3 linked regions of the Homo sapiens genome follow. The protein of the gene in region 1 purifies or fractionates together with the protein of each later gene. This does not show direct contact. Each region holds a gene or a part of one and is shown on either strand. Other genes may lie near its edges. The genes, in order: MAP10, MIB1 and DNAJC13.

Evidence for each region.
Region 2: the proteins of MAP10 (region 1) and MIB1 purify together in Homo sapiens (affinity purification with mass spectrometry; one large-scale study listed by BioGRID and IntAct). This does not show direct contact.
Region 3: the proteins of MAP10 (region 1) and DNAJC13 purify together in Homo sapiens (affinity purification with mass spectrometry; one large-scale study listed by BioGRID and IntAct). This does not show direct contact.

The regions. Positions count from the first base shown.
Region 1 is NC_000001.11:232,803,792-232,807,544, forward strand, and holds the start of MAP10 (microtubule-associated protein 10), read left to right. Parts: upstream 1-1,624; 5' UTR 1,625-1,658; coding exon 1,659-3,753. UniProt on the Homo sapiens protein: Microtubule-associated protein (MAP) that plays a role in the regulation of cell division; promotes microtubule stability and participates in the organization of the spindle midzone and normal progress of cytokinesis.
Region 2 is NC_000018.10:21,813,734-21,817,386, forward strand, and holds part of MIB1 (E3 ubiquitin-protein ligase MIB1), read left to right. Parts: exon of another isoform or gene 1-162; coding exon of another isoform or gene 163-171; intron 172-1,882; coding exon 1,883-2,080; intron 2,081-3,653. UniProt on the Homo sapiens protein: E3 ubiquitin-protein ligase that mediates ubiquitination of Delta receptors, which act as ligands of Notch proteins.
Region 3 is NC_000003.12:132,455,453-132,459,105, forward strand, and holds part of DNAJC13 (dnaJ homolog subfamily C member 13), read left to right. Parts: intron 1-782; coding exon 783-949; intron 950-1,048; coding exon 1,049-1,128; intron 1,129-1,210; coding exon 1,211-1,380; intron 1,381-1,816; coding exon 1,817-1,916; intron 1,917-3,653.

The sequences.
Region 1 (3,753 bases):
ACTATAATTTATAAAGCTGAATAAAGCGGTACATATATAATGCCCAGCAGCAGGTACCTCAAGCTTTACATATCTCAAAACTCAAAGTATTTTTTTCCGTCAAATCTGTGCCTCCTCAATATTTTCACCTTCAGTAGCAGAAGTTTTTCACCCATGACTTTTCTTTCCCATTCACCAAATTTTAAAATTCCTCCATCACAAATGCCTCTTCTGCCACCTCTTTTTAATTTCCACTAGTCCTGACCATGTGCAGGTCATAATTATCTGCCTCTTAGACCACTGCAGTAGTCTTCTAATAGATTGCTCTGAATCCAATTTCTAATTAGTAGAATCCATCCTTTGTATTCCTCCCCATGATACATTTCCAAATATTGCTATGATGTACTTATTCAATCAAAAAAATTTGGACAGAATATAGTCCAAATTCTTTACCATGGCATTCAAGGCTCTCCAAAAACTGGCCTTGGATTCCTAGCTGGCTAGCTCATTGAGGTTAGGAGTATGTTTCTTAAAATATCTGGATAGAGCAGCAAGTTCTGTGTGTCTCTGTAGATGTGTGTATATTTATGTACACACATTTGTTTTATTGATGGAATCATTAACATTACTCTCATGCATCATGATTGCTTAGCTGGAAATGTTGTCAAATAAAAAACAGGGCCAGACAGTAGTTGAAGTGGCAAAAACACTGTAGTCAGGAACTACTGCAATAAGAGAAAAGAGACCTCAATACAGAGCTGGGCTCAATTCCAATTACAGCATGGACAAGTGGGGATTTAAAGCCAAGGGGGCGTCAGGTCAAGTGGATGGAAACTTACTGATAGGGAACATCACGGGTGGGAGGGTTCTGATTAAGCAGGCCTAATAGGATTCTTGCTGAAGCCAGGCCAGGGTGGTCAGATACCAATGATAGAAAATGAAGAATTTGATCAGGTATCGACGGTAATCAGGTATGAAGGGTTGGGGGTTCTCTCTCAACAGCCGTAGCGAGACCTTTGCTACAACTCGGTGATCCAGGGTCCACAGGATTGGAAGCCAAGGTCAAGGCCTAGTCGGAAAGAAGGCTTAGATGAGCCTGACCAAAGTTCAGCCAAGGAGAGTTTTTGCCAGTGTATTCACACTCCGTGTGTGTGTGGTGTGTCTGTCTCAGTACTACTGTAATTGATGAGGCAGGGGCTCCCTGGCCATCCCAGCAGTGTCACCATCTTTTGGGTAGAACAGCAGACACAGAGATGGCCCACTGTGGACAGTTAACTAACTGGCTCTGTTTAGCATGGGAAAGGAAGGAGAGTCCTGATTTTCTTTCAATATTCCTCAGGTATATTGATCTGACCCCCAAGTTACATAAGATCTGCAGTGATAAAACCATTACCCAAAAAACTCACTGTCTTTTACCACTTATATCCTCAGCATTATCATCAATTGTCTTAATACAAGGTTGGTGGCAAAAAACGGCTCACAAGTATGCATACAAAGGGGCCAAACACATTGAGCAGCAAAACCCCCAAAGCAGACACCGCCCGAGACCCGCTGGAGCGCTTCCGCAAATCTCGCGAGATAGCAGGCAGCGATGCCTTTTGCTCCGGTTTCTCGTGAGACCCCGGGGCTTCAGCTTCTCGTTTGCGGAGCCCGCGGCGGCGTTTCCTGGGGCAACAGCAATGGCGGCCTCGCTGTCCGAGCGGCTCTTCTCGCTGGAGCTGCTGGTGGACTGGGTGCGTTTGGAAGCCCGGCTGCTGCCGTCCCCCGCTGCCGCAGTGGAGCAGGAGGAGGAAGAGGAGGAAAAGGAGCAGGGGGAGGCCTCGTCGCCGCGCGGTCTGTGCCCCGCCGTGGCCTTCCGCCTGCTGGACTTCCCCACGCTGTTGGTTTACCCTCCTGACGGCCCCGGCGCTCCCGCCGCCGAACCGTGGCCCGGTGTCATCCGCTTCGGTCGCGGCAAGTCCTGCCTCTTCCGCCTGCAGCCTGCTACCCTGCACTGCCGGCTCCTGCGGACCCCGCTTGCCACCTTGCTGCTGCAGCTGCCCCCTGGGCGCCCGACGCCCACCCCACAGCTCCTGGGGGCCTGCGACATTTCGCTGGCCACCGCAGCGCACAGGGTCGTGGGGCCGGCCGCCTCCGGATGCTCCCACCGTCACCGGGGACGTTTCCCCCTGCATAATCGAGTGGGCGAGCGGACTGGGGACATTGCACTGGCCTACCGCCTGACTGACCTGGGAAGCCGCCTGCTGAGCCAACTTGAGCGGCCCCTCACCTTCACCCGCACAGGAGGAGGAGCGGAGGTCAGTCCCCAAACCCAGCAGGAAAGACAGCAGCTGCAGCAGCCAGCCTCACAGCCAAGCCCAAAAGAGGCTGATAAGCCGCTGGGGGAGTTAGAAATCCCAGAGGCACAGAAGGATTTGAAGGAAATGGTTAAAAGTAAGGCCGAATGTGATAATGTGGGTTCTGTGGAGAATGGCAAAACCAATTCTGTTGTTACATGTTCAGGTGCTGGCAATGGGAGAAATGTTAGCTCCCTAAATGAGGAAGTCACAGAATTGGACATGGAGACCAATATATTTTGCCCTCCTCCTTTGTATTACACTAACTTGACCCAAGAAAAACCGCCCCCTGCACAGGCTAAAATCACCATTGAGCCTCAAATGAATGCACCTGAGGAAATGGATGATGCTTCTCCTGAAAAAAAGCGTGTAAATCCCCCAGCACACAGGAGTTGTCTAAAGCATCCAAGTTCTGCAGCACACGAACATCCTCCAATGCTTGTAAATCCTCCACATATTCAGAATATAGGAGCAACTAATCAAACATGTCAAACTGAACAAAATCGAATTAATACAATAAGGCAGTTGCCTTTGTTAAATGCTTTGTTAGTTGAGTTGTCCTTGTTATATGACCAACCTGTGACAAGTCCTGCTCATATACATCCTCACCTAGCCTGGTTATATAGGACTGAGGATAAGAAGTCACCCGAATCTTCTGCCAAATCCACATGCCGGTCTGAAGCCAAGAAGGATAAGCGTTCTGTGGGGGGATGTGAAAAGTCAGTGAGTCTTCAGTATAAAAAGAACCAAATTGAAAACTATAAGGAAGATAAATATTCTGAAAAGAGCAGTGGTGCCCTCCATAAAAGAGTTCCAAAAGGGAGGCTACTTTATGGCTTAACAAATACACTAAGACTACGTTTAAAGCTGACAAATCCTGATATGTTGGTGGTACATGAAAAAAGAGAACTATATAGAAAAAGACAATCACAAATGTTGGGTACAAAATTCAGAATTCCGTCATCCAAAGTTAAACTATTAAGCTCTGCAGAACAAAGTCAGAAGCCACAACTGCCTGAAGATAAGTATTTAGATTCAGATGCATCTTTCACTGAAAATAGTGATACCTCAAGACAAATCAGTGGAGTTTTTGATGAGCCCAGCACAAGTAAAGAAACTAAACTGAAATATGCAACTGAAAAAAAGACAGTTGATTGTAGTAAAAATAGAATCAATAATGTTTCATTGGAAGAAGTTGTGAGTCCTGCAAATTCCATTATTCCAGAAAGGCTTACCCCTACAAATATTCTGGGAGGAAATGTGGAAATGAAAATCCAAAGTCCATGTGTTTTCCAACAGGATGCTGTTGTTGACAGAATTGTAGATAAGGAAATAGATATTAGACAGGTCAAAACCACAGATAATGACATTCTTATGGCTGATATAAGTGACAAGAGAACAGGTAAAAATAGTTGCTATGAAAACATCTCAGAACTGA
Region 2 (3,653 bases), on another chromosome or scaffold:
CTTTCTTTGAAAGTAGTTCAGATAATCCTGGGTGCCATATGGATTGTCAGACCCCTTGCAAAACTAGGGAGTCCACCAGGGGCTGGCACAGTGGTATTGGGAATCGGAAACCACTGCTTTGGATGGAGGAAGTCTTAGAGTACCAGGATCAGGGACAGACACATGGTCTTGGTGGGTGTTAAAATTTGCAATGCAGTATTGGAATAAATGCAATACGCTTATACCTACTACCCTTTTCCATCTGCTTCTGGCAAGGCAGTGAGACTTCTTTTCATACTTTTTGGTATAAGCTATGTATACTACCTTCATGGCGCAGTGCAGGCAGTTTTTCCCCTTTATAAAGTACCTTCTTTTAGTTTTAAAAAATTTAAGCAATTTGGTCTTTCCTGCCTTCTCATTTCTTCAGAAATATGCCTGTTACAGGAGGTGAGGCAAATCTATTTGATTCTTCTGAAATAGTTTTGGAATTTTTGATATATGGAATTTTGGTAGTTTATGCTTCGTTTTTATCTTTTAATGGTGTATTTAATTTTTTTTCTGTTCTCGAATATACAGAAAAATGTATGCTCATCACTTAACCAGTTTTAATGTGTTGATAAATTGCTCCCCATTAAAGCCAGTTGAGATCACATTGTTTGGCATTCTTTTTTTTTTTTTCAATCACACAACTCATCTTAGTTTACTTTTTGTGTCATCTTTGTAGGACGTGCACGGTGGCTCACACCTATGATCCCAGCATTTTGTGAGGCTGAAGTTGGAGAATTTATTAAGGCCAGGAGTTAAAGGCTGCAGTGAGCTATGACTGCCACTGCATTCCAGCCTGGGTGACAGAACAGGACCCTGATTCTTTTTTTATTGAGAGGCAGTCTTGCTCTGTCGCTCAGGCTTGGAGTGCAGTGGCCCGATCTCAGCTCACTGCAACCTCTGCCTCCCGGATTCAAGCAGTTCTCCTCCCTCAGCCTCCCGGGTAGCTGGGATTACAGGCATGTGCCACCATGTCTGGCTAATGTTTGTAATTTTAGTAGAGACGGGTTTTCTCCGTGTTGGCCAGGCTGGTCTTGAACTCCTAACTTCAGGTGATCCGCCCGCCTTGGCCTCCCAAAGTGCTGGGATTACAGGTGTGAGCCACTGCGCCTGGCCTAGGACCCTGATTCTTTAAAAACAACAACAACAACAACAACAAAAATGGTCTTTGTAAAAATTTTTAAATGTCAAAAAAAATTGGCTTACCATCATGGCTGATAAATGAGGAATGCTGAAAGTTCAAGCTGTTGGTTTTATATATATATATATATATATATATATATATATATATATATATATAAAATTATATATAAATGTATATATATAAATAAATAAATACATATATATAAAATGATCTAAGTTTATCATTTATCTTTGGGAGTTAGTCACTGTTCAAGTCAGTTTCTAGGTTTTAAAAAATTTTTTTATAGAGACAGGGTCTCACTCTGTTGCCCCGGTCAGAGTGCAGTGGTGCGATCATAGCTCACTGTAACTTGAAACTCCTTGGCTCAAGCAATCCTCCTGTGTCAGCCTCCCAAGTAGCTGGGACTACAGGTGGGTGCCACCATGCCTGGCTCTCTCTACAAGACAGGATCTTGCTATGTTGCCCAGATTGGTATTGTTGGAAATCTTACTCACATTTACAGTTTACTTGGCCTCAAGTGATCCTTCTGCCTTGTCCTCCCAAAGTGCTGGGATTACAGGCATGAGCCACTGCACCTGGTCAAGTTCTAGTTATTTTGTTGTTTCCTACATTGCCTTTTCTCAAATTAATCTGCTTCTTGGTATATTATTATAGCTTCAAGGTTTTTTTCTTTCTAAAATATTCACTAATTCACATTTCAATACTAATGATTAGGATAAAGATGGTGATAGAGCAGTTCACCATGCAGCTTTTGGAGATGAAGGCGCTGTTATAGAAGTACTACATCGAGGTAGTGCTGATTTGAATGCTCGAAACAAGCGCCGACAGACACCACTTCATATTGCTGTCAATAAAGGTCATCTTCAAGTTGTGAAGACTTTATTGGACTTTGGCTGTCATCCCAGTCTCCAGGTAAAACCTTTAAAGAAACACATCCTGCAGGTATTGCTAGGATCCTATTAAAGGGAAACATTAAGTTCTATGGTAAGCATTCCTTTGTTACCGTTCTCATATGTCATAGTAAATGATACCAAAGGCGTAAGATGTTACAAAATTGGCAGCTATTTCTTTTTTAAAAAGTTGTTTTTTTTTAGGGAAAATGCCAATAGATTGGGTTTTGATTGGGCAGGGAGAATGAGGACTTCTTTGTAAAAATATCAGCTTATGAATGGATTTAACTTTATTGATCATGACAGTGAGCTCAACAGCTTAAAGAAGTGTAATAGGCTATATTTCATAATAGTTACTTCATAACTATTTAAATTATTTTAATTGTAGCTTTTATTGTAGCTTAGGGACTTTGAATAGTCGTTAGTGTAATCTTCGGAGATTTCTGTTTTGGAAAATGTATAGGATTTTAGAGTTGATTTACAGTAGGATCTAATTTTTGAAGCAATGATTGCCTAAGAAATGATTATCCCCAGCTACAGTTTTATAACCAGATAAATTAAACCACAAATATATAGAAAATGTAGTCTGTGTCCATTTTCTGCTTAGTTTGGTTACTAAGCAACTTGTCTTTTGTGCACCTGTTTGATTAAAGTTTCTATACTTAGTAATTTTGTAGCTCCTGAATCTAATTTGCCAACTTTTAGGTTCCTTAACCGAATAGGCTTGAAACAACATATTATTTTTAAATAAAAGTGTTCCCTGAAATACTATTTGAATATGTAAAACATAATTTGTTTCCATTGGAAACTCAATAATGATTTTTTAAAAAGTAGGGCAGTGGTTAGAATCATAAGCTGCTTGTAGTTTAGATAATTTACAGCATCCAGGAATTGGTTGCTGGATTGGATAGATCTCAGAGAAGAAATAAAGAACAGTAGTAGTGGGAATGAGGGCTTGAGAAGAACTGAAAGAATAGATTTTGTTCAGCTAGATAATTATTAGAAATTAAGGTTTTTGAAGTGCAGCTGTTTTGGAACTGTTGGGATCTAGAGTATGTCCTTGTAAGTGGGAGGCAGGATTGGAGGATGAGGGAAGAATTGGGGGGGTGTTAATCTGTAAGGAGAGGTGATTTATACCTGCTGACGTTTTTTGTCTGAAATGGGAGACAAGTTCATCTGTTGAGAGTGGTGGGTAGAGAAAGAGTAATTGAGAAGAGTGATAAGGACTTGGGGACCTGCAGAAGGGTGTTCCAATCATGTTAGAAGCCCGTTTCAGGTTGAACACTACAGATTTTTAGTGCCGCCAGATACAGGAGTAGAAGGTAGATGGTAGATGGTTGGATTGAACTTGGGTTAGGAATTCTTTTTTTTTTTTTTTTTTTTTTTTTGAGGCAGGGTCTTGCTCTGTTGCCCAGGCTGGAATTCAGTGGCGTGATCATGGCTCATTGCAGTCTCAACCTTCAGGGCCCACCTCAGCCTCCCGAGTAGCTGGGACTACAGGTGTGAGCTGCCATGCCTGGCTAATTTTTTGTAGAAATGCCCAGGTTGGTCTCAAACTTCTGGTCTCAAGCAATCTTCCTGCTCCCACCTCCCAA
Region 3 (3,653 bases), on another chromosome or scaffold:
ATACTTATATGGTCTAGCAGTTCCACTTTTAGGTATCTATCCAAGAGAGATGAAAAGATGCCCACAGAGAGACTTGCACATGAATGTTCGTAATATCATTACTCATAGCCAAAAACAGAAGCAATCCATATCTAGATCAGCCAGTGAATAAACAGACAAAATGTTGCCTGTTCATACAATGGAATACTACTCAGCAATAAAAAAGGACTGACCTAATACATGCAACAACTTGGATGAATCTCAAAAGCCTATGTATGATAAGTAAAATAAGCAAGACACCTAAGACTACATATTCTATAATTCTGTTTTTATGAAGTTTCTTTAAAAAGCAAAACTATAGAGATAGATCAGTGGTTTCCTGGGGCTGGGGAGTGTTCTTTTGCAAATGGGCACAAGGAAATTTTTTGGAGTGATGAAAATATATCAGAACTGATGATGATTATACAGTTGTATAAATTTATTAAAAATTATCAAACTGTACGTTTTAATTGGATGACTTGTGATTTGTCAATTAGAACCGAGTAAAGCTGTTAAAAATAATTTTAAAGGGAGAGAAAGAGAAATTAAAATTAGTGTTTAAGTAACTTGTACAAGGTCATGTAGCAGCACGGTGAAGAGCTAGTATTAGAGCTCTTCCTAAAGCCCCACTGTTTGTGTTTCCCATTGTAACTGTAGTGTGTCCCTGAGCAGATTACCTGCTAAAGGGCCTATGCTTCATGCTAGATCAAAATTCCCCTTAATCATCAATGCTAAAACCTTTTTTTACTTTTAATCTTACTTAGAGATTCCTTATTAGCAAGTTTGCTGGATGGAGTAAGAGCCTCTGGTAATAGAGATGTTTGTGTAAAAATGACACCAACCCATAAAGGTCAGCGATGGGGGTTACTCAGCATGCCTGTTGATGAGGAAGTAGAGAGCCTTCACCTCAGGTTCTTAGCTACGCCTCCAAGTAAGTATTGATTTAAATGTAATTACATTTCCACTCATCTACTTAATTTAAGAATTAGGAATTCGTATCTTCTTTTTGAACCTCTTAATCTCTTTACAGATGGCAACTTTGCAGATGCTGTATTCAGGTTCAATGCTAATATTTCATACAGTGGAGTCCTACATGCAGTAACACAAGATGTAAGCTAAGTTTTATCATAATTGTTCATTGTTACTAACTTTTGGTATGGAAACTTTTTTGAAATACTCTTTCTTCACCTAGGGTCTCTTCTCAGAAAACAAAGAAAAACTGATCAATAATGCCATAACAGCATTACTGTCCCAAGAAGGGGATGTCGTTGCTTCAAATGCGGAACTTGAGAGTCAGTTCCAGGCTGTGAGGAGGCTTGTGGCATCCAAAGCTGGTTTCCTGGCTTTCACTCAGCTTCCAAAGTAAGTTGTCTTCTGAAACTTAACTTCTCTTAGAGAATTTGAACTACTCAAAATGGCAAATAATGAACGATTCACCTCCTTTTCCTTGACTAAACCAGATACCTTTTATAGGGTGATATGGTACTTTATTCATGAGAAATGAAAAAGGAAGGTGAGGGCAGCAGAAGCGGAATATTGGTCCCATACTCACCAGTAATATAACTGACTCTTGAATTTGAATGGGAAATTACATGCCTTTTAGTTTTAGTTAACCCTAAAAAATATTTTCCCTCTCAAAGAAAAAACTATTATGAAGACTGATAAATTTCAGAGGTGGAATTTAAAATACGTCATTGTTCCAGTAGTGCAATGGAAAGTTAATATGATCTATTTCAATAATATAACAATTTAAAATGTTCTGGTATTGCTAGTATATGCTTGTTTTTTGTTCCAAAAGGTTTCGCGAGCGTCTAGGGGTGAAGGTAGTAAAAGCACTCAAAAGAAGCAACAACGGAATAATCCATGCAGCAGTTGATATGCTTTGTGCCCTTATGTGTGTAAGTAGTAGTTTTCTTAAGGAAACTGGTTTTTCTTAAGTTGACTGGTGGTTTTGATTTCCACAGTCCCAGATTTTCATTGTACCAATAAGTTCTTGTTTCTGTTTCATAAATTGTTCTCATAGTTACTCAAACCTTTGTTTAGCATATCCTAAATACCAGGCAATGTGCTGTGTGCCAGAAATTCAAAGATCTTAAGACAGAAGTTCTTTTCTTCCTCACTTTGTTGACAGTCTGGTAAGGTAGGCATATCTGTACAAGGTAAGGTAGTAGGGGCCATAGGATCTTGAAAAGCAGCACTTTATTTTTGTTTGGTGATGAGGGGAAGATGAAAGATTCTCACCCAGTCTTTCTGGAAGATGTTACATTTGATCTGAATCTTGAAGGACAGGCAGGAATTTTCTAGCTCTGGAAAGGCCTTCCTGGGTGGGGAATAGCATATAAAAAGGCATGTTTGGAAAGCAACAAATAATTAAATATGGTTGGGTTATAAGGTATGGATGGGGGGTAATTAGGAGTTGCAGCTAGAGATGTATGCAGACAGTAATAAAAAACCTTCTGTATCAGGAGGGAGGAGCTAGATTTTTATCTTTTTGTAAGGAACACCTGAAGGATTTTTTTTAGCAAGAGAGCAGTAATGTGATCAGGTTTGAGTTTTTAAAAACCCACACTGGTAGTATGTGGAGAATAGAAGTAAAATTAGAGGCAGGTAGACCAAATTGTCACGTAAGAAATGAGTTGCTGAGCTAGGGTAGTCACAGGGCTAAAGAAGCAGCACACCTGAAAGCTGTTTGCGCAGTAAAGATCTAACTTAGTGGCAGCTTGTACAGAGGGAGAAACAATTGTTTAGTACAGTTTTGAAGTTTCTGATTATCTCAGTTTTGTGTGTAGTACCTGGGACTTTTCCTTATATAAAGTGTTTTAGGCAAGCTTAGTCGTACATAAACATAAGTAAATACTTCTGTAAAACCTTGCATTCCCAAAAGCAAATTAATTTTATTTACTGTTCCAAACAAGTAGTGAGATAACTAGAACTTAACAATGATATGGAGAGTTGCTTTATTCGAACAAAAGATGTTCCTATTACCCAGGAAATTCTAATGGTAGAGAGCTTTGTGTCAGGCTCCCCTATCAGGAAATTGCAAAGTTCTTAGGAGCTCTGTGTCAGGAACCAGGGTAAAAGACTGTTGCAACAAAAGATTCTGCTAGTGCCCCTGTCTGCAAGGGTTTTAGGTGCTCTATGTCAGGAGCCAAGGATGGAGACCAATGTATATATTTTTTAATATTTCATGTATTCTCCCTGCTCAGAATTCTTTCCCTGCTTATTCATTAAGAGCTCAAGTCAGCTTTTAAATGAAGCTTACCAAATATACACACCTACTATGTACCCACAACAATTAAAATAAAATTTTAAAAATAAATGGAGCTTTCTTATTCCTGAAGGTGGTAGTGATGTATCCCTCCCTGAAGTGAGATTACCCTTCATAAATATTACACTTGTCTTTCTTAGCAATTTCTTCTTTGAATTATTGCTATTTCTAAACATGATGTATTTTTCTCAATCTGTCAGCTTCCTGAGGATAATATTCATGTTTAATTTTAATTTTTATCCTTAACAGGCCTTGTCAAGCTGTTTAATAAATAATGATTAATTTTTTTCTGTGTTTCAGGTACTATTCTATGAATTTTTCATATATTATTCAGTCTTCCAATGAACTTTAGAAGTTATTACTGTTA